4 linked regions of the Homo sapiens genome follow. The protein of the gene in region 3 purifies or fractionates together with the protein of the main gene of each other region. This does not show direct contact. Each region holds a gene or a part of one and is shown on either strand. Other genes may lie near its edges.

Region 1 (3,500 bases), on a different chromosome or scaffold from region 3:
TACTTTATGATCTAGAGCAAGTGATGATGGTAAAGGTCAGTATATCAAAGAAAGGGGCATTCTAAAATTAAGATTATAATTTAACTATGAGGCCATCAAATACTACCTAATCAATCAGAGAAAGATGACCTTTTGAACTACTGCTATTGGCTATAGAAAAAAAAATAAAAACTTTCTGTTGCTCCCTAATTCCCATATTTAGAAATTGTCTCCCATGAGTTTATAAACTACATAAATTTTTCACACATAGGCTAGGCACGGTGGCTCACGCCTGTAATCCCAGGACTTTGGGAGGTCGACGCAAGCAGATCACTTGAGGTCAGAAGTTTGAGACCAGCCTGGCCAATAAGGTGAAATCCCATCTCTACTAATAATATAAAAATAAGTTGGCTTGGTAGCACCGTGCCTGTAATCCCAGCTACTCAGGAGGCTGAGGCAGGAGAATCGCTTGAACCCAGGAGGCAGAGGCTACAGTGAGCCGAGATCGTGCAACTGCCCTCCAGCCTGGGCAACAGAGCGTCTCAAAAAAGAAAAAAAAAATTTTCACATGTATTTTCCTTAGAGAACTAACTTCTATAGTAGAAAACTCAGTATTTTTGAGGTACTCATCTCTATTTCTGCATGTGCCTCATCCCTAAAAAAACATGTTTAATGAGATGAGGAATCATTCATAATCAAATCATAATAAAATATAAATATACCGTTTGCATCTTTGGGGCACAGGCCCTGCTGACCATACATAGAAGTTCATGGACACCTCGATAACTCAGACCAGTCACCTTCATAAGCTCCAGTGGGGAAAGACATAAAAAGTCCTAAAGAAACATAAAGAGAGTATTTTAAACATATATGTGTAACAAAGATACTAGAGTTAAAAGGAAACCTTCAATTGATACTGCTTATGTAGACAAAAGTATAATTTATCGCAGATCAAAGATTTATACATTCATTGTAGTATTTTCCCCATAAATATGCCTTAACTAAAAGTTGTAATGACACAAACTTATCTTCTAATTATCCTGTTTAGTTGGCATATACCAGAGGATACACCAAATAATATCACATAGCACCAGCATCCAATCCAGGTGCGTATGAGCGCTACACTTGTGCCAAAAAGAATTTGGGTATAAATATATGCCCAGAAAGTGTCAGGTTGAAAGAGTTTCTTTCCTTTTTTTTTTTTTTTTTTTTTTTTTTTTTGAGACAAGAGTTTTGCTCTGTCGCCCAGGCTGGAGTGCAGTGGCACGATCTCGGCTCACTGCAACCTCCACCTCCTGGGTTCAAGCGATTCTTCTGCCTGAGACTCCTGAGTAGCTGGGACTACAGGCACTCACTACCATGCCTGGCTAATTTTTTTTATTTTTAGTAGAGACAAGAGTTCACCATATTGGCCAGGCTAGTCTCGAACTCCTGACCTCATGATCTGCCCACCTCGGCCTCCCAAAGTGCTGGGATTACAGGTGTGAGCCACCGTGCCCGGCCGAAAGAGTTTCTTTCTAAGCTAGAAGTTCACTCAGAGATAATATTTCGTAGTTGAAAAAGAATGAAACTGACTATAGGATGAAATAACAAATTTCATACTTTTAAGAATGTTTCCGAGTATAAATATGCAAATAATTAAATGTATAACAAAGGAACCGATGTTATCTTTAACACAGAAAGCAATTCAAAAAAAAAATTGCAGAATGCTCTGTGAAAATGTCTTATTAAAGATAAAATCAGGCCAGGCACGGTGGCTCATGTCTGTAATGCTAGCACTTTGGGAGGCTGAGGGAGGCGGATCACTTGAGATCAGGAATTTGAGACTAGCCTGGCCAACATGGTGAAACCCCGTTTCTACTAAAAATCCAAAAATTAGCTGGGTGTGGTGGCATGTGCCTGTAATCCCAGCTACTCAGGAGATGGAAGCAGGAGAATCACTTGAACCGGGGAGGAGGAGATTGCAGTGAGCCGATATGGCACCACTGTACTCCAGCCTGGGCAACAGAGTGAGACACTGACTCTAAACAAACAAACAAAAAAAGGATAAAATCCTAAGATAAAACCTTAAATCTAGCCAGGCACAGTGGTGTGTGCCTGTAATCCCAGCTAGCTGGGAGTTGAGGCTGGAGGATTGCTTAAGGCCAGGAGTTCAAGATCAGCTGGGGCAGCATGAGAACCTAGTCTCAAAAACAACAAAGAACAAAAACAACCAACCAAAACCTTTAAATCTTATTTACCCTGCTAAGGAGGATTTGCTTCACCACCTTGCTTAAAAATGCAAGATCCGCTCTATATATTTCTCATGCTCCATCAATAAGAAAATGGTCTATTAATTTCTTTTGCTTTTAAGAGAAATGATACATGTTGAATAGTATCTCCTCATTTGAGTCCTATTTCTCATGTAACTATAAAACAGTAAAGCTGTTACTTCACCTTATGCCGTGACCACTTTCCCCTCAAAATGCAAAAATACTAAATTTGGGTAAATGAAATAGCAGTTGGAAATGCACCCAAGGAGGCTTGATATTTACAATTAGCCTATGGAAAAGCACCATCATTTATCTTTTTTTTGTAAGCCTACATTTTCATATTTCAAGTTTAAGAGGTATTAAGGTATAAAGTTAACTTGTGCATAAAACTTATCAATAAAAATGTTAAATAAAATTTACCTGACAGGTAAGGATCTGATGTCTACTCAGACGGTCACACAGCTCTTGTGATAAACCCACTCGTTTTAGTTTCTTGCTACCCATGCCTCCAGATCCAGCAAAGAAAAGAAGAACCATGAAAAAAACAACAGAATATAACATAAGTGATAGTGAATAGGCTATCCAAAACAAAATTAAAAATTCCTCAAGTTTCTCCATATGCAAAATGAAACATATTGTGTTAAAAATATTACTGATAAAGGAATGCTATAGAACCTTTTTAAATGTTTTAAATAGGAGGGACAATTGTTCGTCAAACAGGCACATAGAAAATCTACAAGGCAACCTCAAATATAATTTCACACAATTAATTGATATTTACTACATGAATATAGTACCACTTCACATTTGTAGAGCATCTTAAAATGTTCAATGCATGTATAAATTTTATTTGGAAATGTAATTAACTTTCAAGGCATATTTCCAAACAGAACTACTAGAAAGTCTATTGCACTGTAACAATTTACATTGCACTGTAACGGCAATAGGTATATTTATGGAGCACCTACCACATACCAGGCACTGTTCCAAAACTTATCTAAATTATCACATTTAATCTTCTCAATAGCCCTAGAAGGAAAGTAGATTATTGGCCCCTTTTTTACATATGAGAAAACTAAAGCCTGGAAAAGTTAGCTAGTCCATTGTCACCAGAAAACATAAATAACTGATCCAGAATTTGAATCCAGGCAGTCTAATTCTGAAACCTATCCTCTTAACCATTACACTCTACTGCAAGTCCATAATCATATTTAACTCTTCCTTTTTCTAGGAGTCAGAGCACACCTTCTGAATCAAATGAGATTTTAT
Region 2 (3,500 bases), on a different chromosome or scaffold from region 3:
TAACACAATGGCATTGGTGTATCTAAGCATGTCTGAACAAGAAAGGGACGGTAAAAATGCCATATGACAATCTTATGGGACTCCTGTAGCATACGTAATCCACTGTTGACAGAAACATCCATATGTATGCAGGACTATGTCTTCATAAAGACACAGGCTGGAAAAAACAGGACCAAATGAGAGCAATTTGCTTATTAGAAGGAAAGATGACTTTCCCCCCATTTCAACATTTCTACTATTTTTAGCAGCATTTACATAAATAAAAAATGAAAGGAAAAAAATTTACCCTTGAGAAATAGAAGAAATGAATAGATTTTGCCTAAACAAAATGTGACAGCTGGAGAAGAGGGAGGGAGGGATGAAGAGGTGGAGCACAGGGCATGCAGTGGAACTTCTCAGTGTGACACGATGGTGGATGCATGTCATTGTGCATATGTCAAAACCCACGCAATGTACCACACAAACAAGGAACCCTAGTGTAAACCATGGACTCTAGCCAATAAGGAAGTGTGATTGGTTTCATCATTGTAACAAATGAGCATCTTGCATTACTGTGGCACATTAACAGGAGACTCTGGGGGGAGAGTGGGGAGCGGGAGTATGTGAGAACTCTGGACGTTCCATTCAATTTTATTGTAAAGCTAAAACTGCTCTAAAAAATGAAGGGAATTAATTTTTTTAAGTGTCAAAGCTGCACCATTGCATGTAATCTTATGAAACAAGATGTCCCTCCCTCTGTTCTCGTCCAGCACTAATGGTTACTCTCTGCCCATTTTTGTCAAAGGGCTTATGTAGAAAAAGCAGGGTATTCAGAAGAAGTGGTGGTTTGGAGGGAATGGATTCGAAGCACACGCTACCCATCGGCTCACTGCCAGATCTCTTCTGTGAGTTAGTCTGGCTTCTGAGGGCAAGAGGAAACCCAGGGGAAGCTTCCTGCAGCTCACTATCATTTGAGGCATCATGCTGAAGCCACGGGCGGATGGAAAGCCGGACTCCACACTCAGGGGAAGGCGCACCAACAGGGGAGGGAGCAACACTCAGGAATAAAGTGGGCCCCTGGGAGAACAGACTCACCCGGGAAGTTCACGGTTAATTAAAATAATTTTGACTCTAGCAGACAGACAATGGGAGTTCTTGGGGTGAGGTTCATGCTAAGCGTTTATGAGTTTCTTCTTTCCCACATAAACATGCAAATTTTGATCCTCATTGATAATAGCTACATTTGCATCTTTCTGCCCTTCACAAAGGAAAGGTGGCCGATCTCACAACTTTGTTGCTTAAAACTTCAACCTGCTAAACTCAATGAGAAAAAAATAAAAGTTTCAATTATCTTATGCCTGTTCTTAGCATTTGCTTTATTTGTGGGTCTCATATTAAGTAGTTCAACTTAATTTATCATGAAATAGCATCATATGAGGTTCAAGGGAACTACCATCAACATACGCTATCAACATCTCTTTTCTCATTTCTTCTCAAGGAGCTTCATTCAGCGTATTACTGAATCAGTTACTGAACATTAGAATAAGAACAGCCTAGGCCCCAACCTCTACAGCCATCCTCCTAGCTCAACTATGACAACTTTGACACAGCAGTGGATGAACAAGTTCTTCCAAAAGCTGAATCAGTCAAACAAGGCACCAGATCTGAGGCTACCAAATCAAGAAACTAGTACTTCTCTCGGTATGCATATCAAAGAGGAAGTCTAGATGTCCCATCATGTTACAACAATGACAAAAAGTGGTTTCTAAAAATTGTTCAGGATCATTATGTTGAACTTTAAATGAACTTGAAATACGCCCCAGCCCCCGATATATAGCGGTATTTTGCCATAAGGAGTAACCACCTGTAGTCCTGTTTTCCTTCTTTGTCTCTCATTGACATGGTGCACCTGCAATAGTTAAATAAGAAAACATTAAACATTGAAAGCAGCACTGGCCAGCCTATATGTGGGGAAGGGCTCCCCTACCAATAAGGGGCACAGGCAAAATCAAACTCTGTGGACTTCCATGGGGAAACCTTAAATGAATACATTCAAAAAACAATCATAAAGAAAGCGAAATGTACAGAATGATCTTTTTTTTTTTTTTTTAAAGGAAATGACTTCAATGTAGCCATCTTTCAGCCAGCTCAAACTCGGCTTTTGAGCTTTTTTCAGTATTCTGCTTTAAGTATACAATGCTCAAAATTCTGAGTGAGAAAATTAAGGCCCAAGTTATCTAAACAAAAATAAGGCATCTCTACAACCAGGTCTTCACTCTGTTCCGCCTCTAGCTTCAGCTGGGAAAGATCTGATAGATTAAGGAAGTAAAAATTCTTGCCACAAGGCAGGTAAGCTGGAAGCAGAGAAGGAAAGGGCCTAAAACGAAGCCCTTGGGCACAGTCTGGGTCACTTCAAGCCTCCTGGCAGCCCTAGGGTATATTATATCCCTATAGGGTACAGTACTTTTCTTTTTTTTTTTTCTTTGAGACGGAGTCTTGCTCTGTCGCCCAGGCTGGAGTGCAGTGGCACTATCTCGGCTCACTGCAAGCTCCGCCTCCTGGGTTTACGCCATTCTCCTGCCTCAGCCTCCCGAGTAGCTGGCACTACAGGCGCCCGCCACCACACCTGGCTAATTTTTTGTATTTTTAGTAGAGACGGGGTTTCACCATGTTAGCCAGGATGGTCTCGATCTCCTGACCTCGTGATCCGCCCGCCTCGGCCTCCCAAAGTGCTGGGATTACAGGCGTGAGCCACGGCGCCTGGCCTTCTTTTTTGTTTTTGAGAGGAGTCTCGCTCTGTCGCCCAGGCTGGAGTGCGGTGGCAACATCTCAGCTCACTGCAAGCGCCGCCTCCCGGGTTCATGCCATTCTCCTGCCTCAGCCTCCCAAATAGCTGGGACTACAGGCACCCATCACCATGCCCGGCTAATTTTTTGTATTTTTTTAGTAGAGACAGGATTTCACCATGTTAGCCAGGATGGTCTCGATCTCCCGACCTCGTGATCTGCCCATTGCCTCCCAAAGTGCTGGGATTACAGGCATGAAGGGTACAGTACTTTTCTAATTGTACTAATGAGGAAACCTAAAAGTGGAGACGCTACGTGCCTCCTTCAAGGTCACATGGCTGGTCAGTGGCTGAGCCCAGCCCTCTCGCACCACCCCCGGCTGTGGTCAGGACGCTCAGCAATGCGAACTCACCCCAGCTTGTGATGAAATGAGCGTGTTTCGTTCAGAATTTCACCTCCATTCTCAAGTTCATTGATTTGCCTCTGAATTTCATAGTCTAGGAAAAACACACTAATTTAGCATCATATTTTGATTATACCTTTCATCCAGTCAAGCAATAATTAGAAACAACCTTTCTCAATCTCTAAGTTAAAAAAAAAAAAAATCAAGAAGATTGTTTATAATAATCCTTCCCTTACACACTATATTTCCTTCTCACTGCCATCGTAGAATATTGGTGTTGGAAAGGGCCTTAGGAAGGCAGGCTCACTCCGTGTTGAGACAATTCAGGTTCA
Region 3 (5,116 bases):
TCTCATCCCACCCGACTAGAAATACCCACAGGTGTGGAGGGGCAGGCCACCCCTTCACTTTCCAGAGCAGTTTAGCTACCATCTTTAACCCTGTCAGATGGGGTCGTGTTACCCACCTCCTAAGGCTGTTTTGAAGGTTAAATAGAGGAGATAACATATGCAAAGCTGGTGGCACACTGCCTGGCATCATAACATATGCAAAGCTGGTGGCACACTGCCTGGCATCAGATAACATATGCAAAGCCGGTGGTACACTGCCTGGCATCAGATAACATATGCAAAGCTGGTGGTACACTGCCTGGCATCAGATAACATATGCAAAGCCGGTGGCACACTGCCTGGCATCAGATAACATATACAAAGCCGGTGGCACACTGCCTGGCATCAGATAACATATGCAAAGCTGGTGGCACACTGCCTGGCACCGGAGAGAACGTTCTGCTGGGGCCAGTGCTTACTGGGTGTGAAACATGTTTATATCACCCCTGCCTATAACATGAAAGATATTCAATAATATCTTTATGTATTGAGTGGTTGTGATTAATATTTGTATTCCCACCTCCCCCAGAAAGGTGGTAACAAGCTGCGGATACACAGAGATGAGGCCCAAGGGCAGAGTGACAGGAAGTGGAGGTGGAGGCTACAGGCTGACCAGAAGCTGGACTGACCAAGCAGCCTCTGACAATGAACTTCTCCCCTGAGAAGTCCCTGTTGCCTCAGAGATGTAGCTTTAAACTCCCAAGCCTTCGCTGTATTTGCTTATTTTATCTTACCTTTTTTTTTTGAGACGGAGTTTCACTCCGTCTCAGCTCACTGTAACCTCCACCTCCCGGGTTCAAGTGATTCTCCTGCCTCAGTCTCCCAAGTAGCTGGGATTACAGGCGCCCACCACTGCGCCCAGCTAATTTTCATATTTTTAGTAGAGATGGGGTTTCACCATGTTGGTCAGCCTGGTCTCGAACTCCTGACCTCAGGTGATCCGCCGGCCTCTGCCTCCCAAAGTGCTGGGATTACAGGCATAAGCCACCGCTCCAGGCCTGTATTAATTTATTTTAAGTCACTATCTATGGCATAAATCCCAGGAAATGCATCCAGCAGGCCCCACTTTCATGGGGTCCCAGCCTGTCAGAGAGCAGCAGCTTGGGCCTGATGCCTGCCTGCTGCTCCTCTGTGTGGCTATGGCTGGAATAGAAGCTTCCAGAGCTGCTCAACAGTGCACTTCACAGAAGGTCAGAGCTGGACAGGACTTCAGTGCCCATTCCAACCCTCTCCAAATACAGGTGGAGAAACTGAGGCCCAGAGAGGGACAGGGACTTGCCCAAGGTCACTCGGGTTGTTACAGGCAGAGCCGAGACCGCAAACCATTTCTCCGGACTTCCATCCCCACCCCTTTCCATACACAACCCTCCATCTGCCTTTTCCTGATTTCGCCAAGAACCACTAGAAGATCACGAAGAGGCAACATCAGGAGCAGGCTCTGAGTAGGCTCCAGATCCTTCCCTCCTCTCCACTCCTCAAGTGCGGAGACGTCCTGGAAACTCCGCATCCCAAATCCCCGAAGATCACCAGCAGGAGCCACTTACCTGCACTCACGTCTGTGGTCGGCCTCGTCCGGGCAGTCGTGGGCGTGGCTGTTGGGGGCTTCATCGTGGTCTTCGCTGAGGTTGTGATCTTGGCTAAGGTGCTGTTCGTCCCTCGGCTGCTGTTGGTTGTAGTCGGAGGGACAGAAGGAAGAGGGTCCCTGCTGGTGGGGAAGGGCCCCTTGGTTGCGATGTCCATGGTCGGTGTCTCTGAAGGGGTGAAGTTCTTGAGGGCGGCTTCCGAGGGGCTGTAGGAGGAAGCAGAGCTCCCAGCAAAGGAAGTTGTTTTGCCCACTGCTGACCCAGCCTCTATGGAGACCGGAGCTGCTCCTGAGACTTTGACGTAACTTGGTGTCTCAACAGAGAGGGCTGAGGTTTCTTCAAGGGGATTCCTGCTAACTGTGACCAGAGCTCCACTGAGGGTCGTGGCCCCGGGTGCTGTCACTTCTCTTTCTGTGGCGCTGTTAGTGGGGAGTGGGGTCCCAACCGTGGCATCAGGTGCAGCTGACTCTGTGGTGCCGGCTGTGGACAGGGTCTCGGCAGAGGCTGTGACCTCAGTGATGTGTGGTTTTGCTTCAGTGGAGTCAGGCAGAGCTGGTGGATCGGAGGTGGACGAGGCCTTCACCCCTTCCGTGGGGATGAGATCTGTGTCTGAGGCCCCAGGGATGCTGGAAGTCGTTGTTTCTATTTCTGTGATGCTGCAATTAATAACCTCGATGTTTGTGACAGTCACCAGGGCTTCAGCGAGGAGAGTGACGTCAGATCCCGGGGACCATGAGGGGGTGATGACTGGATGGGGGCCGTCGGAAGAGGCGCTGCTCTCTGAGGCCCGTGACGGGGTGATGACTGGATGGGGGCCGTCGGAAGAGGCGCTGCTCTCTGAGGCCCGTGACGGGGTGATGACTGGATGGAGGCCGTCGGAAGAGGCGCTGCTCTCTGAGGCCCGTGACGGGGTGATGACTGGATGGGGGCCGTCGGAAGAGGCGCTGCTCTCTGAGGCCCGTGACGGGGTGATGACTGGATGGGGGCCGTCGGAAGAGGCGCTGCTCTCTGAGGCCCGTGACGGGGTGATGACTGGATGGGGGCCGTCGGAAGAGGCGCTGCTCTCTGAGGCCCGTGACGGGGTGATGACTGGATGGGGGCCGTCGGAAGAGGCGCTGCTCTCTGAGGCCCGTGACGGGGTGATGACTGGATGGGGGCCGTCGGAAGAGGCGCTGCTCTCTGAGGCCCGTGACGGGGTGATGACTGGATGGGGGCCGTCGGAAGAGGCGCTGCTCTCTGAGGCCCGTGACGGGGTGATGACTGGATGGGGGCCGTCGGAAGAGGCGCTGCTCTCTGAGGCCCGTGACGGGGTGATGACTGGATGGGGGCCGTCGGAAGAGGCGCTGCTCTCTGAGGCCCGTGACGGGGTGATGACTGGATGGGGGCTGTCGGAAGAGGCGCTGCTCTCTGAGGACAGGCCCTTAGCTTCTGTGGAGGTGTGAGCCAATGTCAATATGTCCATTGTGAGTGTCTTTGCCTCTTCAGAGCTGTCATCGGTGCAAAGGGTGTCAAAGATGGCTTCCCTGGGATCACTGCCTGTGATGGTCTGAACTGTGGTCATTCCAGCTCCCTCGGGGCTGCCACTGGCGGCTGATGTCTCCACGGAGGTGGCGATCAGCACCATGAAGTTGGGAGATGTTTTTGTGAAACTCCTGGTCTCTCTTGCAGGGGAAATTCTCTTGGCTCCCCTGGTCTCTGCTTCTGGAATGGGGCCGGCTGGGGTTGAGGCCCTAGAAGAGGTCTCAGCGCTCAGCGTTTGAGTTTCCAGAGCGGCGTGGCCCGGTGCTAGAGTCATAGCGGGCACTTCTGTGTCGTCCGTTGTCATCGCAGTGTCTGCTCTGCGGGTGCTGGGGCCTGTGTTGGTTAAGACTGACTTGGTGAGCCTGGGTTCCAGTGGACTTCACACAAGCTATTGCGTTTACACCCTGGGCACTTCTGGGAGGAGGGTGGGGCAGGGGAGTGCCGTTACCTCATTTTTCATCTACATAAGCGAACAAGAAGGAGGCAGTCCTGGGAAGCCCAGGCCTGTGTGGCAGCCATGGAGCTGGGGTTGCCATGACTGGTGTCCTCTGAAACCCTGACAACTCACTTGGGGCCAGCAAGCCCCAGGATCTGCTGGCTATCGGCCTGCGTCTTTAAGAGGGGATGTGTGGGGCCAGCGTCCACCTTCCAGGGTGAGCCAAGAAGGCAGACCAGCGTCCAGGACTCGCAGAGCTTTCTGAACCTCTGTCCCCTTCCCCGGATACTTTTCTCATCCAACACATAGTTCCCCATGGAAGTAAAAACCCTTAAAAGACGAGAAAGGCCTATGATTGTGCCTTTCGGGGTAGCTGGGTGGATTGAGGCGGGGGAACCTCCAGAGACAGGGTGGGCAGTGCTGCTGCCAAAGCGAGGGAGCCGGCAGAGTCCTTGGGGCTCCAGCAAGGGAAAGACGGCACCCCCCACCCTGCCGAGGCCCCTCCTGAATGAGGGCTGAGAACTGCAGGGTTGGAGCCTGGGAACCATGGAAACCGTGGCCAGGCATTTTCCACAGGACACCGGGAGACCCTGAGGCAACACCTAGCTTTTCAGAGAGCGGCTGCCAGCACTTCTGCCCAGAGCAGAGGCCTGTTCCCTTGACTGGCCCTGAGGTGGGAGGAATGGGAGTCCCCGAGGGAGGCTACGGTAGGATATCTTCCCTAGAGACAGGGTCTTGCTCTGTTGCCCAGGCAGGTCTTGAATTCCTGGGCTCAAGCGATCCTCCTGCCTCAGCCTCTTGAGTAGTTTACTACAAGATCTTTTCTGGCCTGAGAAAGGGGGCCTCCCCTGTCTAGAGGGAGATCGGGCTCTCCCTGTGAGTGGGCCAAGGAGCCTCTTGGAGAGGGTTTCTAGATTTAGCAAATAAAAATACAGGGTACTCGGTTAAATTTGAACTTGCATTTCAGATAAACGACGAATAACTTTTTAGCATGAGTATTTCTCATGCAATATTGGCTACATACTTACACTTAAAAAAAATTGTTACCTGAAATTCAAATGTAACTGGATGCCCTGTGTTTTATCTGGTAATCCCAGTCTTGGAAGGAAAAGGATCAAATACGAACCCCCTAATTCTCTGAGCCTTCTTGGTCCAGCCTACACAGCTGGAAGCCCAAAGGTGGCGCTCTTGGAGTCTGACCTCCCCTGGCACAGGGTTTGAGATGGTCTTTACCCAGCTCCACTGGCCCAAAAGTAGCCCATAGACCCAAAAGGGGCCTAGCACCTCTCCCCAGGGCATCAGGATGGGGCCCCAGGTCCCCAACTGGTTGTCCTGTGGACCTCAGGGAATGACGACGCAGGAGTCAAGAGCCTCGGTTGCAGCTCCCGCTGTGCCGCCCACGACTGGCTCCGGGGTCAGATGATCTGCTGGTTCAAATCCTGACTCAGCCTCCTACTAGCCAGGCCAGTCTCTAGACCCCTCCCAGCCTCCATGTCCTCACCTGAGAAAACAGGGTCACAATACCTGCCTTGCCAAC
Region 4 (3,500 bases), on a different chromosome or scaffold from region 3:
GAGATAGAGTCTTACTGTATTGCCCAGGTTTGTCTAGAACTCCTCCTCAAGTGATCCTCCTGCCTCACCCTCTCAAAGTGCTGGGATTACAGGCATGAGCCCCTGTGCCTGGCCTTCTTTTACTTAAAAGAAAAATCGTTATAGCCATCCTAGTAGGTATGAAGTGGTATGTCCTTGTGGTTTTGATTTGCATTTCTCTAGTGACTAATGATGTTTAGCATCTTTTCGTGTGCTTATTGGCCATTTGTGTATCTTTTTTGAAGGAAATATCTTCAGGTCTTTTGGCCATTTTAAAATTGGATTGTTTGCCTTTTTTGTTGTAAGAGTTATTTATATATTCTTGACACTAGTCCCTTATCAGATATATGAGCGGCAAATGTTTTTTTCCTTTGTGTATGTTGACTCTTCACTTTCTGAGTGGTGTCTTTTGAGTCATAAAAGTTTTTAATTGTGATGAAGTCCAGTTGATCTTTTTTTTTTCTTTTGTCTTTTGTGCTTTGGGTGTCATATCAATTATTTTATTTTTAGTATAGCAAGTGAATTGGAAATTTGTATATGTTCCATTATTAGTCATTGATTTGAAAGAGTGACGTCTGTACTTCAGACTTGTATTTTTCTGTTACTTTTCAACTCCTGACCTATTTTGTTCACTCTAAGACATCACTCCCTTTGTATTTCCTTGGTGCCTAATGTCACTTGTGTTTCGTAGGGTGTGGTTCCAACTGCTCAGCGTGCTGCCATCGTTGTAGGAGTAGAGCTACCAGTCTATGATATTACTAAGAAGCATTTAATATTGTCAGGAATGATGGGCGATACAATTTTAACTCACTTCGTGTAAGTAGGATGGGATGTGCTCATTTTATTTCCAGCATTTTGAGCACAAAAAGCCTCTTTTACTGAAATCCTCAGGTGGAATTTGATAACTGGTACGTATGGCCTAAATTCCCTTGTCTCTCCTATTATCAGAACTTCAAGCCTTATGAACACTTTATACTTCACAGAAATGCCAGGTGCTATGGGGGCTTGGGTACTTGGGAACATTGTCTAATACAGCAGCCTATCAGAGGTCTATTTGATTTACATTTATCCATACATAGCTTCTATATCTAATAAGCACATCTATTATTTGCTTTGGTTAATTTTGTTTGAGAAAGCAAACTTTTCTCAGTGGGAATCAGAAAAAAAGGGGTAAATAAGGTCTGTGAAACTAAAGCACAGTTTTTTGGCTAAAGACTGTTACTGATCTCATTTTACATTTTCTTTGTCTTGCAACCTTTATGATAATTTTGTTACTCAAATGCATTTGGCATGTGATGCTGTGGTTTGAAAAATTTATGTAACTAATACATGGTGCATGATACTTTCTACTTAGGAATCTTGTTAGGTTTAGAAACTCTCCTTTAAAAAAAAGGCTGAGTTTCAGATTGAAAATTGAAGGGACAGCCTTTGAATGATGTCTCTTTAGAAAAATTTCCTGTCTCTTTAGATTGTAACGAAAGGCCAAGTGCCAGGTTTTATCTGATGGGTCTGAGTTATATTGTACAGTTTACGTTTGGCCTAATTTCTGTTTAAGTGGGCAGGGAGTGAAAGTGGGGTCGATCTACTTAAACTTTTCCTCTTAGTTCCAGCTTTACATGTGGTTTGGCTGGGGCTCTGGCCTCCAACCCGGTTGATGTGGTTCGAACTCGCATGATGAACCAGAGGGCAATCGTGGGACATGTGGATCTCTATAAGGGCACTGTTGATGGTATTTTAAAGGTAAGTACATTGTGGATTTGGGTTACAATTTGGCTTTCTTTGATGTCTTAGACCTTCCTTCAGTTCTTATTATTAGTTGCTACATACCATTTTGAAGATGAAAGAATCATATTTTTTTAGTAGCTTCTCAGTTATTCCCAGGTAGAAAAGCTGTCTCCTTAGCAATCTGCTAATTTGCAGTGGTACTTAATATAATGATTCCCATTTGAATGCTTTAAAATACAGGATGCTTTTATTAATAGTATCATGTAGAATTATTGATAGAAAAGACAATATATCCCCCATTTGCCTACTTCATACAACACAGAGACCCTGCAATAGAAAACTCAATACTTAAGGAAAAAAGCCTGTATTTTATTTCAGTTCACGGTTATGCTGTTGTTCACTTTGGCTTTGAAAGTTCCTGCTGTTGTGTTTGTGGGAACTGAATATTCTAAAAGTATTACATCATTACTGGTGATATTATTGCTACTGAAAACAAATTGAGGCTAAAATATGATGTTGCCATATGGTTTCTCTCCTGTTATCAGTTTTGTTTAACAACTATTACATATTAGACACCATTTTAGTAGTTAGAGAGAAATTACAGTTATTACAAAAGTACTATAGGTATACAAACGGATCATCAGTACAGCCTGATAAGTGATAAACTCAAGAGTTCTCAATTTGGAAGCATTGAGGTAGGCTCCCTGTAGATGGTGGCATCTTGAATAACAATAACTCATATCCACTGAGTGCTTTTTTGTGTGTCAGCAACTGTCCTTATGAGACTTATGTGTATTCGTTCATTGAATCCTCACCATTACTCCACGAGGTAGACACTGAAGCACTGAAAGATTAAGTAAGCTGCCTAAGGTTTCACAGCTACTAAGTGGGAGAACTGGAATTTAAACTCAGATCACTTGACCTCAAACTGACATTTACCTCTCCACTATGGTGCTTTCCTCATATTGGTGGCCAAGGGTTAGATTATAAAGGATACTGAATGCTATATTGAGGTGCTTGGACTTTTTTTTAACTTGTCAGGGAGCTGTTGAAAGTTTTTAATCAGATTAGCTTTGCATTTTAAATAGATTACTTTGGCTTTATGGAGACTGGATCTACCACAGTGGTTCCTCATCTTGGGTACACATTGGAATCACTTGGGAGAACTTTCGCAGCTCCCTCCTCTACCTTAGACCAATTAACTCAGAACCTGGGGAGTAAGGTCCAGGTGTCAATATTTTAAACTATATCAGGTGACTGCAATGTTCACCTAAGGTTGAAGACTACTAAGGGGATAAGCCTGGAGCCATGGTTCTTCAAAGTTTAACATGCATCAGAATTACCTGGAGGGCTTGTTAAACTGCAGTTCACTTGGAGCCATCTCCAGATTCTGATTTAGTAAGTATGGAGTGGGACCTGGAAATTTGCATTTTTAATAAATTCCCAGGCAATACTGATGTTGCTAGTCTGGAGACCACACTTGGAGAACCACTGACCTACAGATAGGGAAGCTGATTAGAAGGCTCTTGTAATCTGAGAAAGAGGGGATGAAGGCCTGAACTTGAGCATGATAATGGAGATATAGAAGGTGGGACAGAGTCAAGAAAGAATTAGTTGATAGAGTCAGCAGGATTTGATTGACTGGATGTGGAGGGGTGTGGGAGAAAAGAGGTGTCAAAGATAAGTTCTGGGTTTTTGGAGTTGGTGACCAGGTGGTGACATTCATTGACAGAGGCATCACAAGAGGAGCACGTCTT

What was found.
Region 1: the proteins of MUC20 (region 3) and RAD51B purify together in Homo sapiens (affinity purification with mass spectrometry; 2 studies listed by BioGRID and IntAct, with this or other methods). This does not show direct contact.
Region 2: the proteins of MUC20 (region 3) and GATB purify together in Homo sapiens (affinity purification with mass spectrometry; 2 studies listed by BioGRID and IntAct, with this or other methods). This does not show direct contact.
Region 4: the proteins of MUC20 (region 3) and SLC25A14 purify together in Homo sapiens (affinity purification with mass spectrometry; 2 studies listed by BioGRID and IntAct, with this or other methods). This does not show direct contact.

The regions. Positions count from the first base shown.
Region 1 is NC_000014.9:67,822,779-67,826,278, reverse strand, and holds part of RAD51B (DNA repair protein RAD51 homolog 2), read right to left. Parts: intron 2,739-3,500; exon of another isoform or gene 2,738-2,738; 5' UTR 2,736-2,737; coding exon 2,652-2,735; intron 816-2,651; coding exon 702-815; intron 1-701. UniProt on the Homo sapiens protein: Involved in the homologous recombination repair (HRR) pathway of double-stranded DNA breaks arising during DNA replication or induced by DNA-damaging agents. May promote the assembly of presynaptic RAD51 nucleoprotein filaments.
Region 2 is NC_000004.12:151,702,008-151,705,507, forward strand, and holds part of GATB (glutamyl-tRNA(Gln) amidotransferase subunit B, mitochondrial isoform 1 precursor), read right to left. Parts: intron 3,263-3,500; coding exon 3,178-3,262; intron 1,889-3,177; coding exon 1,844-1,888; intron 1-1,843. UniProt on the Homo sapiens protein: Allows the formation of correctly charged Gln-tRNA(Gln) through the transamidation of misacylated Glu-tRNA(Gln) in the mitochondria. The reaction takes place in the presence of glutamine and ATP through an activated gamma-phospho-Glu-tRNA(Gln).
Region 3 is NC_000003.12:195,723,040-195,728,155, reverse strand, and holds part of MUC20 (mucin-20 isoform a precursor), read right to left. Parts: intron 3,477-5,116; coding exon 1,584-3,476; intron 1-1,583. UniProt on the Homo sapiens protein: May regulate MET signaling cascade. Seems to decrease hepatocyte growth factor (HGF)-induced transient MAPK activation. Blocks GRB2 recruitment to MET thus suppressing the GRB2-RAS pathway. Inhibits HGF-induced proliferation of MMP1 and MMP9 expression.
Region 4 is NC_000023.11:130,363,919-130,367,418, forward strand, and holds part of SLC25A14 (brain mitochondrial carrier protein 1 isoform 1 precursor), read left to right. Parts: intron 1-709; coding exon 710-834; exon of another isoform or gene 835-1,622; coding exon 1,623-1,758; intron 1,759-3,500. UniProt on the Homo sapiens protein: Transports inorganic anions (sulfate, sulfite, thiosulfate and phosphate) and, to a lesser extent, a variety of dicarboxylates (e.g. malonate, malate and citramalate) and, even more so, aspartate and glutamate and tricarboxylates.